Linked DNA regions of Homo sapiens: region 1 is linked to region 2. A link means that fine-mapping ties the variant in region 2 to the expression of a gene that starts in the linked region. Tissue or cell type: whole blood. Region 2 holds a variant in brackets; the other region holds the start of a gene. All regions are shown on one strand. Distances are between the middles of the regions.

Region 1 (5,000 bases), 21 kb after region 2:
GGTTCTCTCTCCTCCCACTCCCCACCCCCACTCATCTTCAGGGACACATTCATCTCACTGATAACAGTGGTTGCCTTATATCTCCTATCTCCTGATGTCCTTACCAGAACTTTTTCTTTTTTGAGATGGAGTCTAGCTCTCTCGCCCAGGCTGGGGTGCAGTGGCTGGAGTGCAGTGGAGCAATCTCGGCTCACTGCAACCTCCGCCTCCTGGGTTCAAGTGATTCTCCTGCCTCAGCCTCCCGAGTAGCTGCGATTACAGACGTGTGCCACCACACCCAGCTAATTTTTGTATTTTGAATACAGACGGGGTTTTGCCATGTTGGCCATGGCTGGTCTCGAACTCCTGACCTCAAGTGATCCGCCTGTGTCGGCCTCCCAAAGTGCTGGGATTACAGGTGTGAGCCACTGTGCCCGGAGTCATCACCAGAACTTCTAAGGCTAGCTTGTTCAACCCACAGCCCAGGACAGCTTTGAATGTAGCCGGACACAAATTTGTAAACTTTCTTAAAACATAGGCCAGGCACGGTGGCTCATGCCTGTAATCCCAGCACTTTGGAAGGCCGAGGCAGGAGGATCACGAGGTCAGGAGTTCGAGACCAGCCTGGCCAATATGGTGAAACCCTGTCCCTATTAAAAATACAAAAATTAGCCAGGCATGGTGGCGCACCTGTAGTCCCAGCTACTCAGGAGGCTGAGGCAGGAGAATCGCTTGAACCCGGGAGGCAGAGGGTGCAGTCAGCCGAGACCATGCCACTGCACTTCAGCCTGGGGGACAGAGTGAGACACTGTCTCAAAAAAAAGAAACACAAAACCATTATGAGATTTTTTTTTTTGCGACTTTTTTTTTAGCTCATCAGCCATCGTTAGTGTTAGTGTATTTTATGTGTGACCCAAGACAATTCTGCTTCCAATGTGGCTTAGAGAAGCCAAAAGAGTGGACACCCCGGTTTTTTTTTTGGGGGGTGACGGAGTTTCACTCTTGTTGTCCAGGCTGGAGTGCAATGCCGCGATCTCAGCTCACCGCAACCTCTGCTTCCCAGGTTCAAGCGATTCTCCTGCCTCATCCTCCCTAGTAGTTGGGATTACGGGCGTGTGTCACCACGCCCGGCTAATTTTGTATTTTTAGAAGAGACGGAGTTTCTCCATGTTGGTCAGGCTGGTCTCGAACTCCCGACCTCAGGTGATCAGCCCGCCTCGGCCTCCCAAAGTGCTGGGATTACGGGCATGAGCCACCGCGCCTGGCCTGGACATCCTTGTTCTAAGGGCACACACCCAGAGGTTTTGTACAAAATAAATGTCTGGTTTTGAATGTCCTAAGAAACGGAACCCAGCTCTTTGTTCACCTCTTTTGTGGGGCATGGAGGGGATGCCTTTTCTGATTTTCAACATTTCTCCCTCCTGAGACCTTCCCAGGGACCCCAACATTGGAGACAGGATAGCAAGAATATCAAATGCTTTCAAAACATTAGCTGTGTTTGGTCGGCCAACCTATTTGCCTCTGTCGGGAATGTAAAAGTTATCTATGGCCAGTCCTTCTTAGTTCAAGGTAGGTCGGCAAACAGCCTTCTCCTTCTGCACAAAAAGGGTCTCTAAGATCCTTCCGTAGCACCTCCATCCCAGTTATTTAAGATGAACTAAAAAGAGGCTACAAGGTAAATAAGAGTTACCGAAGGAGATGCCGGAGAGACTAACCTCCTTGCACAACCAGCCTTTTAAAATTAGGGATTTAGACACCACGGGCAGTTTCCCTCAATAAATTCTCAGGCACTGGAACCAGAGAGTAGGAGGATGAGGGGTGAGCAGGACGCGGAGGCCGAAACTGGAGGCGAGGCGGGCGCAGGCCCACGGAGCACCACCCCATCCCCTAAGCAGCGACTAATAAAGACGGCAGCCTCCGGAATCACTTTCGCCCCCCTCCCTGGCAGCTTCCCCACCGAGTCAGCAGCTTACTTAAGCACGCGCTGCCCAGAGATGCAAAAGGCCCCCTTATGACCACGGCGCTGCCCACCCAGCATTCGGGCAGCCTGGACTCCCACAAAACCCAGAGTTGCGCCCCAATCACCACCCCTTTGCAGCCCCTGGTTCCCTCCCCAGCGGCGCCCCACCACCCACCTCTCCCCTAAGGCCATTCAACTCAGTCCCTCCTCGGGGCCCCTCAGCTTTTGCCCCTCCAGTTCCTCCGTGTCATGACTCTCGCCCTCCTGAGCCTCCCACACCTGGCACCGCCCCCACCCTACCCGACCCCGGCCCGGCCTGGCCCCGCCGGCCTTACCTGGCGGCGGCTGCCGCTCGCCCTCAGCCATCTTGCTCCGGCCAGGAGCCGACCCGGATGCTTGCAGTCCCCTCTCGCCTTTCACTCTTGCACCCACCCTTCCTCTCCCCGGCTCCACCAAAGGCTCCGAGCTTCCTGAAGACAAGTGAGCGCCGGCCGGCTATAACCGAAAACCGAGAGTTAAAGTCACCACAGCGAAGACGGCCGCCATGTCGGTGCGGGGCGCTCAGGGAGCAAGCCTATTAACGGCCGGCGCGCGGCGGACGCGCGGAACCGGGCGACGGCCATGTCAGTGCGGGGCGCGCGGGGCGCATGCGCGCCAACGGCCGCCAAGCGCTAGGACCGCTCACGGCCGCCCGAACGTCGGGCGCCGCGACTGCCACGATTGTGCGGGGCGTCAAGTTTGGGTTGTGCTCAGCCATGTTTTTCCGGGACAGTCTCCTGTCCCGGAGTACCACCTGTCATCTTTGTGGGTGGTACTGACCCTAACCCAAGGAATATTAGAGGACATTCCCCGGTCAACATGGTTGTGTTTTCCTATCACTCTAAGAGTTAGGCTCAAGGACACCAGACGGAGTTGGAAAGGTGCACACCACTACCTCCAACAGCTTAGAAGACATGTGGGGACAGGGGAGAGACAGCTGGACGGTGACCTCCTCCTTCCTCCTCCACAGGTCTCAATGACTCGCCCTCGGCCCTGCCCCTCTGTCCCCGCCCGCCGTGGTCCCGCCCCCGACTCGCAGCCAGCCTACTGCGACCCGCTACCGGGCGACGCCCCGCCCCTCCGTCCCCGCCCCTCCTGTCCCTCCTCAAGGAGACTCCGCCCCATCGATGCCCCGTCCCCGCCCCACAGCCAACCTCCCGGGCACCGTTGCCCGCCCGGGGCCCGCTACCGGCCCAGGCCCCGCCTCGCGAGTCCTCCTCCCCGGGTGCCTTCCCGCAGCCCGCTCGGCCCAGAGGGTGGGCGCGGGGCTGCCTCTACCGGCTGGCGGCTGTAACTCAGCGACCTTGGCCCGAAGGCTCTAGCAAGGACCCACCGACCCCAGCCGCGGCGGCGGCGGCGCGGACTTTGCCCGGTGTGTGGGGCGGAGCGGACTGCGTGTCCGCGGACGGGCAGCGAAGATGTTAGCCTTCGCTGCCAGGACCGTGGTGAGTGCGGCGGATCCCGGGCCTGAGGGCCCTGGACGGCCTGGGCGGGCCGTGCGGTTGCGTCCGGGAACGGAGACCGCGTCCTGCGGCCGCTGTTCGACCCGGCCTCCAGCTGATGGGGTGGGGTCAGGCGGGCGTCCCAGGTTTGGCAGAGCAGGAGATTGGGGCGCAAGGTCAGAAGCGGGATTAAACCCACGTCCTGGAGCATTCAGTTCCAACGACCCAGGAAAGACAAGGGGGACCCCGGCTTCAGTTAGCACCCCCACCCTTAGACCCAGAGACAGGCCGGTAGGGGAGAGAGACCAGGAGCATCCAGACCCTAGCTCACTCTCCCAGTTATTCTCCGATTGACACACCCGTCGCACGCTTAGGCCAGAGCCACTCCTCCGACCCTGTCCAGTTGGTCACACTCCTTTGGTTTATCAGACGGTCCCTGGGGAATTGTGTGTGGCCAGAGAAACACGCGGAGGCATCAAGCTAGAAAGGCCTCAGAACTGGCAGGTGGCAGCCCCATGGTCTCCCTCCCCTCCAGCCCCCTTCCCCACCCTGGCTGTATCCTTCCCTCCAGCCCCCTTCCCCACCCTGGCTATATCCTCCCCTCTAGCCCCCTTCCCCACCCTGGCTATATCTACCCCTCAGTCCTCCCCGGTGAGCAGCCCGGATGCTAGCCTAATTTCAGTCCCTTCCGTCCCTGATCCAAGCATATGTTGCTGGTGTCTCACTCTGTCTCAGACACACACTACGGGGCCAGAGGGCGGAGGGTGCATCCAGGCTCAGGCCTAGAGGCTCTTTTAGGTGTTGCAACACCCTGAGCCTCCACCGCACCCTTGTCACTGTCTCCCAAGCTGCATCCATCCCACAAACAGCCTCTAGATCATCCTCCAGGACCATCCGACTGGACTGGTTACCTTCCTGCAGGGAAACTGAGGCAAGGAGGGACTTGCCCAGAGTCCCCTGGACCTGCTCATTCAAATCCAGCCCAATCCCAGTGTCCTTTGGTTTATTTTTCATACCAAAAGTCCTCCGCTCTTGGACCCTAGCTGAATGAGCCACAGCTCAGGAAAAAATGAGTGTTCGTAGAGGGATGGCTCAGATGGGTCCCAGGAGTCCTGGAGAGAAACAGGAAATAGGCAGGGCTTCTGGCTGTCCCATCCACTGATGGCCTTTTCCTGGTGTCTGCTCCCTTGCACCAACCCTAATTTCAGGACCGATCCCAGGGCTGTGGTGTAACCTCAGCGGCCAGGCAGTCTCTGTCCTCCAGCCAAGTTTTCCCTCATCAAAACGATCTTCGCAGATTCTGACAGGTGGATTTTTTATTACCTTTTGTCCTGACTCCCTGGCACTGAGCCCATGCAGAGAAGAAAGGAAAGAACTTTCCAGGTTCCCTTCTACTGGAATGCCCCCCCACTAGCCCTCTCACCTGCTCCCCATTCCTCTACTTCTGGGAGCTCGGGAGGGTGGAGCAGCTTCTAGAGTCCAGGAGCTTCCCCTGCCACTGCCACAACCCCCGATTCCACCACAGCCATCGCCACTGCCACCTGCCTCCCGCTGAATCTTGGCTCTTGTCTTCTCTTTCC
Region 2 (7,780 bases):
TATCTCCTAGGTTCTTCTGGTTCCAACCTTCTATATTATCAGAGGCTGCATATCAACCACCTGTGAAGCATCGAGCACTGCTCCTGGGCTCCGTCACAGGCCTGCTGCAGCAGCACTGCTAGACTGGGGCCCGCAATGGGGATTTTAAGAGCTCTGGGTAACTGATCCACATCAGTGCTGCCCAGCGACTGGCTTGGGTGGTGTGGGGCAGCAGGTCAGAGTCTGACTACCTGGGTTCAGCTGGCGTGAACCCAGTGAAGACACCGGATATCTCTGTGCCTCAGTTTCCTCATATGTAAAATGGAAATAACAGTTGCTATTTCATAGGGTTGTTGTTAGAATTAATGAGTTATACATAAAGTGCTTAGAATTCTTCCTCCATATGGTCAACACTGTGTCAATACTGGCAGACATTATGTGACAATTCTTTTTTTTTTTAAGACAGAGTCTCACTCTGTCACCCAGGCTGGAGTACAGTGGCACGATCTCAGCTCACTGCAACCTCCGCCTCCTGGGTTCAAGCAATTCTTCTGCCTCAGCCTCCTGAGTAGCTGGAATTACAGGCGAGTGCCACCACGCCCAGCTAATTCTTGTATTTTTAGTAGAGACGGGGTTTCATCATGTTGGCCAGGCTGGTGTCGAACACCTGACCTCGTGATCCGCCTGCCTGGGCCTCCCAAAGTCCTGGGATTACAGGCGTGAGCCACCGCGCCCGGCCTATGTGACAATTCTTTCACTTGCTTTTACTTGGAGGTTAATTTGAACCTGTTGGAAAAAAGGCTTGGACACTCCATCCACAGCCAGAGCTTGATTAGGACAGGACAAGAGAACCATGAGCTACTCAGGAGAACCCTAGAGCACCCCATTTCCCAGTTTGAGGAGGAAACAGATGGCCCCTCACGCCCCCTCCTCCAACCCTCCTGTCCTTTCTCTCACCGATTGAACACCTTGAAGACAATAGCTATTTGGTCATCCACCCGGAGCACCCCAATCTTGCAGAGACAGCAGAGGAAAGCAGCGAAGGCTGCCTCATGCCCTGGAGGAGAAAAACAACCAGCGTTGACAGTAGTCCAGGTAAAGGACTGGGATTGTTTTAGTCTCCCAGAATCCGAATCATTGATAAGTGCCCCTCTGAGGAGGGTGGTCAACATGGAGACAATGAGACCTCTTCCCCATTCAGAAAGACTTGCTAGGCCCTTTCCTTTCAAGAACTATAATACCAGTACTGGCCGTGCATGGTGGCTCATGCCTGTAATCCCAGCACTTCAGGAGGCTGAGGCAGGCAGCTTGCTTGAGCTCAGGAGTTTGAGATCAGCCTGGCCAACATGGCAAAACCCTGTCTCTACAAAAAATACAAAAATTAGCCAGACATGGTGGCATGTGCCTGTGGTCCCAACTACTCAGGAGGCTGAGATGGAGGATCTCCTGAGCCCAGGAGGTTGAGGCTGCAGTGAGCCATGATAAGGCCACTGCACTCCAGCCTGGGTGACAAAGTGAGACTGTCTCAAAAAAAAAAAAAAAAAAAAAAAAAAAAGAACTACCAGTACTATAATTCCACTCGTAAAAGACCCGGGCTGGACATTTACATTTCATTACGTAGGTTTAACTCACTCAGCAATTCCACCATATTTACTGAGCACCTACTATGTAAGCAGTCACTGTCCATGTTACGCACTAGGAGACAGTGACAAGTAAGTCCTTGCCCTCAGAAAGTTTATGATCTATCAGGGACAACAGACATTATAAATATACAGTCACTACTATGATTCCAGCTCTGAAGGAGAAAGACAGGGTACTAACTGGAGGATATCACAGAAGGACCCTGACGTAAGGGTTCAAGGTTTCCCCTAAGGAAGTAACATCTAATCTGAAATCTGAAAGATGTGAGCTGGCAAGGCAAAGGGAGTGAGGGAAGCAAGAAATGCATTCTAGCCAGAAGGAATAGCATGTGCACAGGCCTTGAGGCAAGAAAAAGTTTGATCTGTTTGAGGAACACTAAGGAGGCCAGTATGTCGAAGGCAGTGAGAGCAAGGGAGAACGTGTAATGACAGGAGGCTACAGGTCACATGGGCCTTTTGGCCATAGGAAAGAGCTCAGACTTTACCCTAAGAGCAATAGGGAGCCACTGCAGGCTTCTAAGCAGGGAACACATGATCAGATTACAGGGTGAAAAAGTATCCTCCTTCCTTTCCCAGTCATATCAAACAGGAATGGTCTGCACTGTAGGAACAACTCACTGGACTGTGATTGAATCCCATTGTTCACAATGTCACACAAAACCTATCTGGAGGGAGGTGAGAAGAGAATGTGTCAGAGAATACTTCTGTCCTGTCTCTGGAGGACGAAGACCCCTCCAGGGCCTGGAAGCTTGTGAGCTCAGTTTCCTTCCCCTGCCACAGTTTCCAATTATGACCAGACAGGGCCCAGGCTCCCATTGTTCAGGGGTTCACATGCAGCTGGGGCACCAACCCCTGCTGACCTGGCCAGTCTTCCCTCTTTGATCTTTTCCTGCTGGTCTTAGTCAAAGCCCCACCCGGTCCAAGAGGGCCCTTCTCCAGGGCCTGCCTCTGTGGCTGGGGCTCCCTCCTGTGGATCACATTCCCCAGACAAGGGGAGGGCTGAGCGGTGCCCCATCTGCCTGCCTCAGGGAAGGAAGGCGGGCCCTCACCAAAGCAGAGGTCCTCCTTAGCTGCACAGGCCAGGCCCTGACCTAGAGAACGCCTCCCTTCTCTATTTTTGAGAGATGGGGTCTCAGCATGGTGGCTCGACAGGCCGTGCCCTGACACAGAGAATGCCTCCCTTCTATATTTTTGAGAGATGGGGTCTCAGCATGGTGGCTCCACAGGCCATGCCCTGACCTAGAGAACACCTCCCTTTTATATTTTTGAGAGATGGGGTCTCAGCATGGTGGCTTGCACCTGTAATCTGAGCACTTTGGGAGGCTGAGGTGGGAGAACAGCTTGAGCTCAGGAGTTCAAGACCAGCCCAGGCAACATGGCAAAACCCCATCTCTACAAAAAATACAAAACAATCAGCTGGGCGCAGTGGCTCACGCCTGTAATCCCAGTCCCAGCACTTTGGGAGGCCAAGGTGGGTGGAGAAGTGACCTCACCAGAGGTCAGGAGTTCGAGACCAGCCTGGCCAACATGGTGAAACCCTGTCTCTACCAAAAACACTAAAATTAGCCAGGTATGGTGGTGTGTGCCTATAGTCCCAGCAGAATAATCGCTTGAACCCAGGAGGTGGAGGTTGCAGTGAGCCAAGATCATGCCACTGCACTCCAGCCTGGGCAACAGAGTGA[G/C]ACTCTGTCTCAAATAAATAAATAAATTGCCAGGCTGGTGGTGCACACCTGTAGTCCCAGGTACTGGGGAGTGGGGAGATGCAGAGGTGAGAGGATCACTTGGGCCCGGGAGGTCAAGGCTGCAGTGGGCCAAGATCACATCACTGCACTGCAGCCCGGGTGACAAAGCAAGACCCTGTCTCAAAAAAATAAATATATAAATAAAAATAACTTAAAATAAATTTTTAAAAAAGAGATGGAGTCTTGCTACGTTGCCTAGGCTGGTCTTAAACTCCTGAGCTCAGGCAATCCTCCCCCTCAGCCTCCAAAAGTGCTAGGATTACAGGCACGCACCACTGCACCTGTCTACACTTCCCTTTTAAAGTGTCCACACACTCCCTCTCCTCAAAGTCCAGGTCCCTTGGCTTACATGGACCACAGATCCAAACAGCCCAATAGCACAGAGAATGTGGCTAAGAGACAAGGGGTTCAAGGGAGAGGGTGTGCCACGACACTGCAAAGGCCACCAAGAAGCGTTCCCATTTCTCAAAGCTTCAGTAAGCTGCTGCCTTGACACACAGTAAGTGCTCAATTAATAATTATTTTGGTGATGATGAGGAGCTCAGAGACCATTTTCACAAGAACAGAAAGCAGCGCTGCGCAAGCACCATGCACGGGGCATCAGCTCCCCCTGGTGGACCACAGCAGAGCTGCAGCATCCGGGCCTCCCTGCATGCCTACGCCCTCCCTGCCGGTGAAGCCACCCTAACCCCAGCTGGCCCCAATAGGTTGCAGGTGCTTGGCGAATTCTTGATTGCTCTCACTTGCTCAGAGGGCCCAGAGACCACCTGAAGCCCAAAACAGAAAGCAGTGAAGCTAGATAAGTACAGAGCCCCACAAGCAGCAGATACCTGTGCCGTAGTCAATGCGCGTGGAGTTCCCCACTGACTCCTTTAGGTAAACAGCCACCTCAGGCACAGCAGCTGCCAGATGGGTAGGGACCACTGTGGCCACCAAGTTTTCTGCTTCCTGGTAACACAAGAGACACAAAGTGGTGGCAGCATATTAAGCAGCATCCCAGTGGGCAGGTGCCCAGGGGCAGCACCTGACTGGGGGCCCACACTGCCTTGCCAGGCCAGCTTGGTTCCTGTTCTGACAGGCCACAGAAGGAAGGGGAGGGACAGCATTTATTCTTCCACAGCAGAAGACTACCCAGGCGACTTATCATCAACTGATTTTTCCAGGGCACAGGAGTCTAGGGGCAAAACAGGAGGAATCTGGAAAAAAGCCTCAACCCTCCCATGTGGTAACTCACTGGAGCCCCACAGAGACTCTGGAAGGTCAGTGCTATGATTCCCACACAGGCCACCTTCCTTCACACTCTCAGGTCAGCAAGAGCTGGTGTCATGTGCCATCAAAAGACGTGCAGAAGAATGTTCACAACAGCACTGTTTAGAGTAGCCAAAAGGTGGAAATGCAATGGAAATGTCCATCAACAGTGAAATGAATAAATTGTGGTATATTCATACAATAGAATACTACACAGCAAAGAAAAAGACCTATAGCTAGACATGAAAACATGGATGAATCTCAGACATGACATTGAGCAAAAGAAGCCAGAGAGTTATACGAAGTTCAGAAACATGGAAAAAAATCAATTTATGGAATAGAAATCAGAATAATCTGGGCGATATCAATTGGGAAGGGGAGCACTCCAGCTAGAATGTTCTATTGCTTGACATGAGTGGTGAATCCATGGGTAAAAAACTTGGCATGAGTGGTGAGTCCATGAGTAAAAACATGTAAAAATCCATCAAGCTGTAAAGCTATGATTTGTCAGCTTTAAGATATAACTTAAGGCTGGGAGCAGTGGCTCACACCTGTAATTCCAACACTTTAGGAGGCCAAGGTGGGCGGATCACCTGAGGCCAGGATTTCGAGATCAGCCTGGCCAACATGATGAAACCCCGTCTCTACTAAAAACACAAAAATTAGCCAAGCATGGTGGCGCATGCTGTAGTCCCAGCAACTTGGGAGGCTGAGGCAGGACGATTGCTTGAGCCCAGGAGGTCAAGGCTGCAGGGAGCTGAGATCATGCCACTGCACTCCAGCCTGAACAACAGGAAAAAAAAAAAAAAAAGATCATGTACCATCTTAAGAGTCCAGAGGCAGGCCCGGGCGTCTCTTGGGAACAGCACTTCACTGGGTCCTGAGTCCTCCCCTCTGCTCTATGTGAAAATATTGGGCCAGAGCAATTAGGACCCAAATTTCCTTAAGCTCAGTTGTAGACAACTGGCATGAGCCATCTCCTGGAAAGCTAGTAAAAATCCAGGTTCCCAGTCCCTACCCAGACCTGTAGACTCTGCTTTTCTAGACAGGGTCTGAGATCCTGCATTTTTATTTTTGTTTGCTTTGAATAGGTAACACCTTCGTAAGATTCAAAAATAAAAACATCAGTAGAGGATCAGTTCAATAGACTAGTCCATCCACACCATGGAGTATGCAGCTAGCATTCCAAGTGGGTGTGCAATGGCTCCATCATAGCTCACTGCAGCCTCAAACTCCAGAGCTCAAGTCATTCTCCTGCTTCAGCCACCCAAGCAGCTGGGACCAAAGGTGTGCACCACCATTTCTTATTTTTTGCAGTAACGGGGTCTTGCTATGTTGCCCAACCTACTCACAAACTCCTGGGCTCAAGTGATCCTCCCGCCTTAACCTCCCCGAATTCTGAGATTACATGTATGAGCCACCGTGCCCAGCTATGAAAAAAATTCCTTTTTGGGGCCGAGCGTGGTGGCTCACACCTGTAATCCCAGCACTTTGGGAGGCCGAGATGGGCGGATCACAAGGTCAGGAGATCAAGACCATCCTGGCTAACACGGTGAAACCCCGTCTCTACGAAAAATACAAAAAATTAGCCGGGCGTGGTGGTGGGTGCCTGTAGTCCCAGCTACTCGGAAGGCTGAGGCAGGAGAATGGCGTGAACCCAGGAGGTGGAGCTTGCAGTGAGCCAAGACTGCGCCACTGCACTCCAGCCTGGGCAACACAGCGAGACTCCGTCTAAAAAAAAAAAAAGATAAAATAAAAAATAAAAAAAATTCCTTTTTATAGCTGCACAGTACTCCATGATATTGATGGACTAATTTATTTAAATAATCCCCTACAGATGGATACTTGGAACATTTCCAGTTTGCTGTAATACAGTGACTTAATAAACAGCCTTGTAGTGCAGAGGGCCGTATGTGCACAGTCGTGTTTCCCAGAAGATGACCAAGCAGAGTATAAACTCATTTGTAATTTTGCTAAGTGAAATTGACATTTTAACAAACTGAGATTTGTATATGCCTAGAAGCGCTATACAATGCAGGCCCTTCCCCAACTGGTGCCAGAACCACCCTCACTGCCAGCCCAGTCCCTGGCCTGTCCTGTGGCAGCCTCACCTCATCAAGTTTGGCATACCAGGTCCTGTATGCCTTATTCCCAAACCGAGAGGGCTGGTCCACTGGAGGAGTCTCATCAATCCACCTGTCCAGCGTGTTGAGAAGAGCGACTAGTTTCTCAATGGCCTGTGGAGGCAAAATAGAGGGGTCCAAGCTACAGAGCAAGTGGCTCCCGCTTAGCCACAGAGGGAAGTCCACTGCTGCCAGACAATGACCCCTTGGCATGGCCCCTACTGGGAACTCTCCCCCATCCCTCTTTCTTCCCCACTGTTCTGAATATGAAGGAGGGTCAGGAGAGCATGATAGGCTTTCCAGAGAGGGAAGCACACTAGGCTGATGGGACAGGGACGGGGTGGCTTTAGCACCTGGTTTCTGTAGGCAGCCTACCCATGGGCTGCTGCTATAGAGAAGCTAACTCCAGCCCTGACATCTTTTTAAAAAGACTTTATGGAAGCCTTTTGTTCAGTATGCAATACCTACTCATCATAAAAAATAGAAATATAAACAGAAGAAAATGAAAATGACCAGTAATCCTGCCACCCAGAAATACACTAAACTTTTTTTTTTTTTTTTTGAGACAGAGTTTCGCTCTTGTTGCCCAGGCTGGAGTGCAGTGGTGCAATCTCGGCTCACTGCAACCTTTGCCTCCCAGGTTCAAGCGATTCTCCTGCCTCAGCCTCCCAAGTAGCTGGGACTAAAGGCGCACACCACCACGCCCAGCTAATTTTTGTACTTCTAGTAGAGATGGGGTTTCTCCATGTTAGTCAGGCTGGTCTCAAACTCCCGACCTCAAGTGATGCACCTGCATCGGCCTCCCAAAGTTCTGGGATTACAAGCGTGAGCCACCGTGCCTGGCCTACACTAAACATTTTAACATACCCTTCTGTGTTATCTTCTCATAGTGTTTTACATGGTTTAGCATGGTGGGCCTGGATTCAAACCCCAGCTAAAACACCATTTAGCTGCTGTGAGACCTTGAGCAAGTGACTAACTCTGAGCCTCTCAGTTTCTTCGTCTAAAAAATGGGGCTGATGATAAATACCTCCGAAGGTGCACAGTG

The links. PIP is the estimated chance that this variant, and not a neighbour inherited with it, causes the effect.
Region 1: CRAT starts here. The variant in region 2 is fine-mapped to the expression of CRAT in whole blood (INTERVAL, PIP above 0.99).

The regions. Positions count from the first base shown.
Region 1 is chr9:129,108,906-129,113,905 of GRCh38, reverse strand. CRAT (carnitine O-acetyltransferase) reads left to right here and starts at 3,113. Exons shown (of 14, transcript NM_000755.5): 1 at 3,113-3,423. The coding sequence starts at 3,397. It overlaps PTPA (protein phosphatase 2 phosphatase activator), which reads right to left and starts at 2,491. Exons shown (of 10, transcript NM_178000.3): 1 at 2,275-2,491. The coding sequence starts at 2,305. RefSeq lists silencers at 2,178-2,227, 2,918-3,357 and enhancers at 1,755-2,295, 2,228-2,507.
Region 2 is chr9:129,128,051-129,135,830 of GRCh38, reverse strand. PTPA (protein phosphatase 2 phosphatase activator) reads right to left here. Exons shown (of 10, transcript NM_178000.3): 4 at 6,721-6,846; 5 at 4,192-4,309; 6 at 937-1,036. Among named protein-coding and RNA genes, the nearest start is that of PTPA, 21 kb to the right of the region's middle. RefSeq lists enhancers at 2,153-2,653, 3,747-4,301 and a silencer at 3,854-4,055. The variant G/C (reference allele first, on the strand shown) is at 3,302.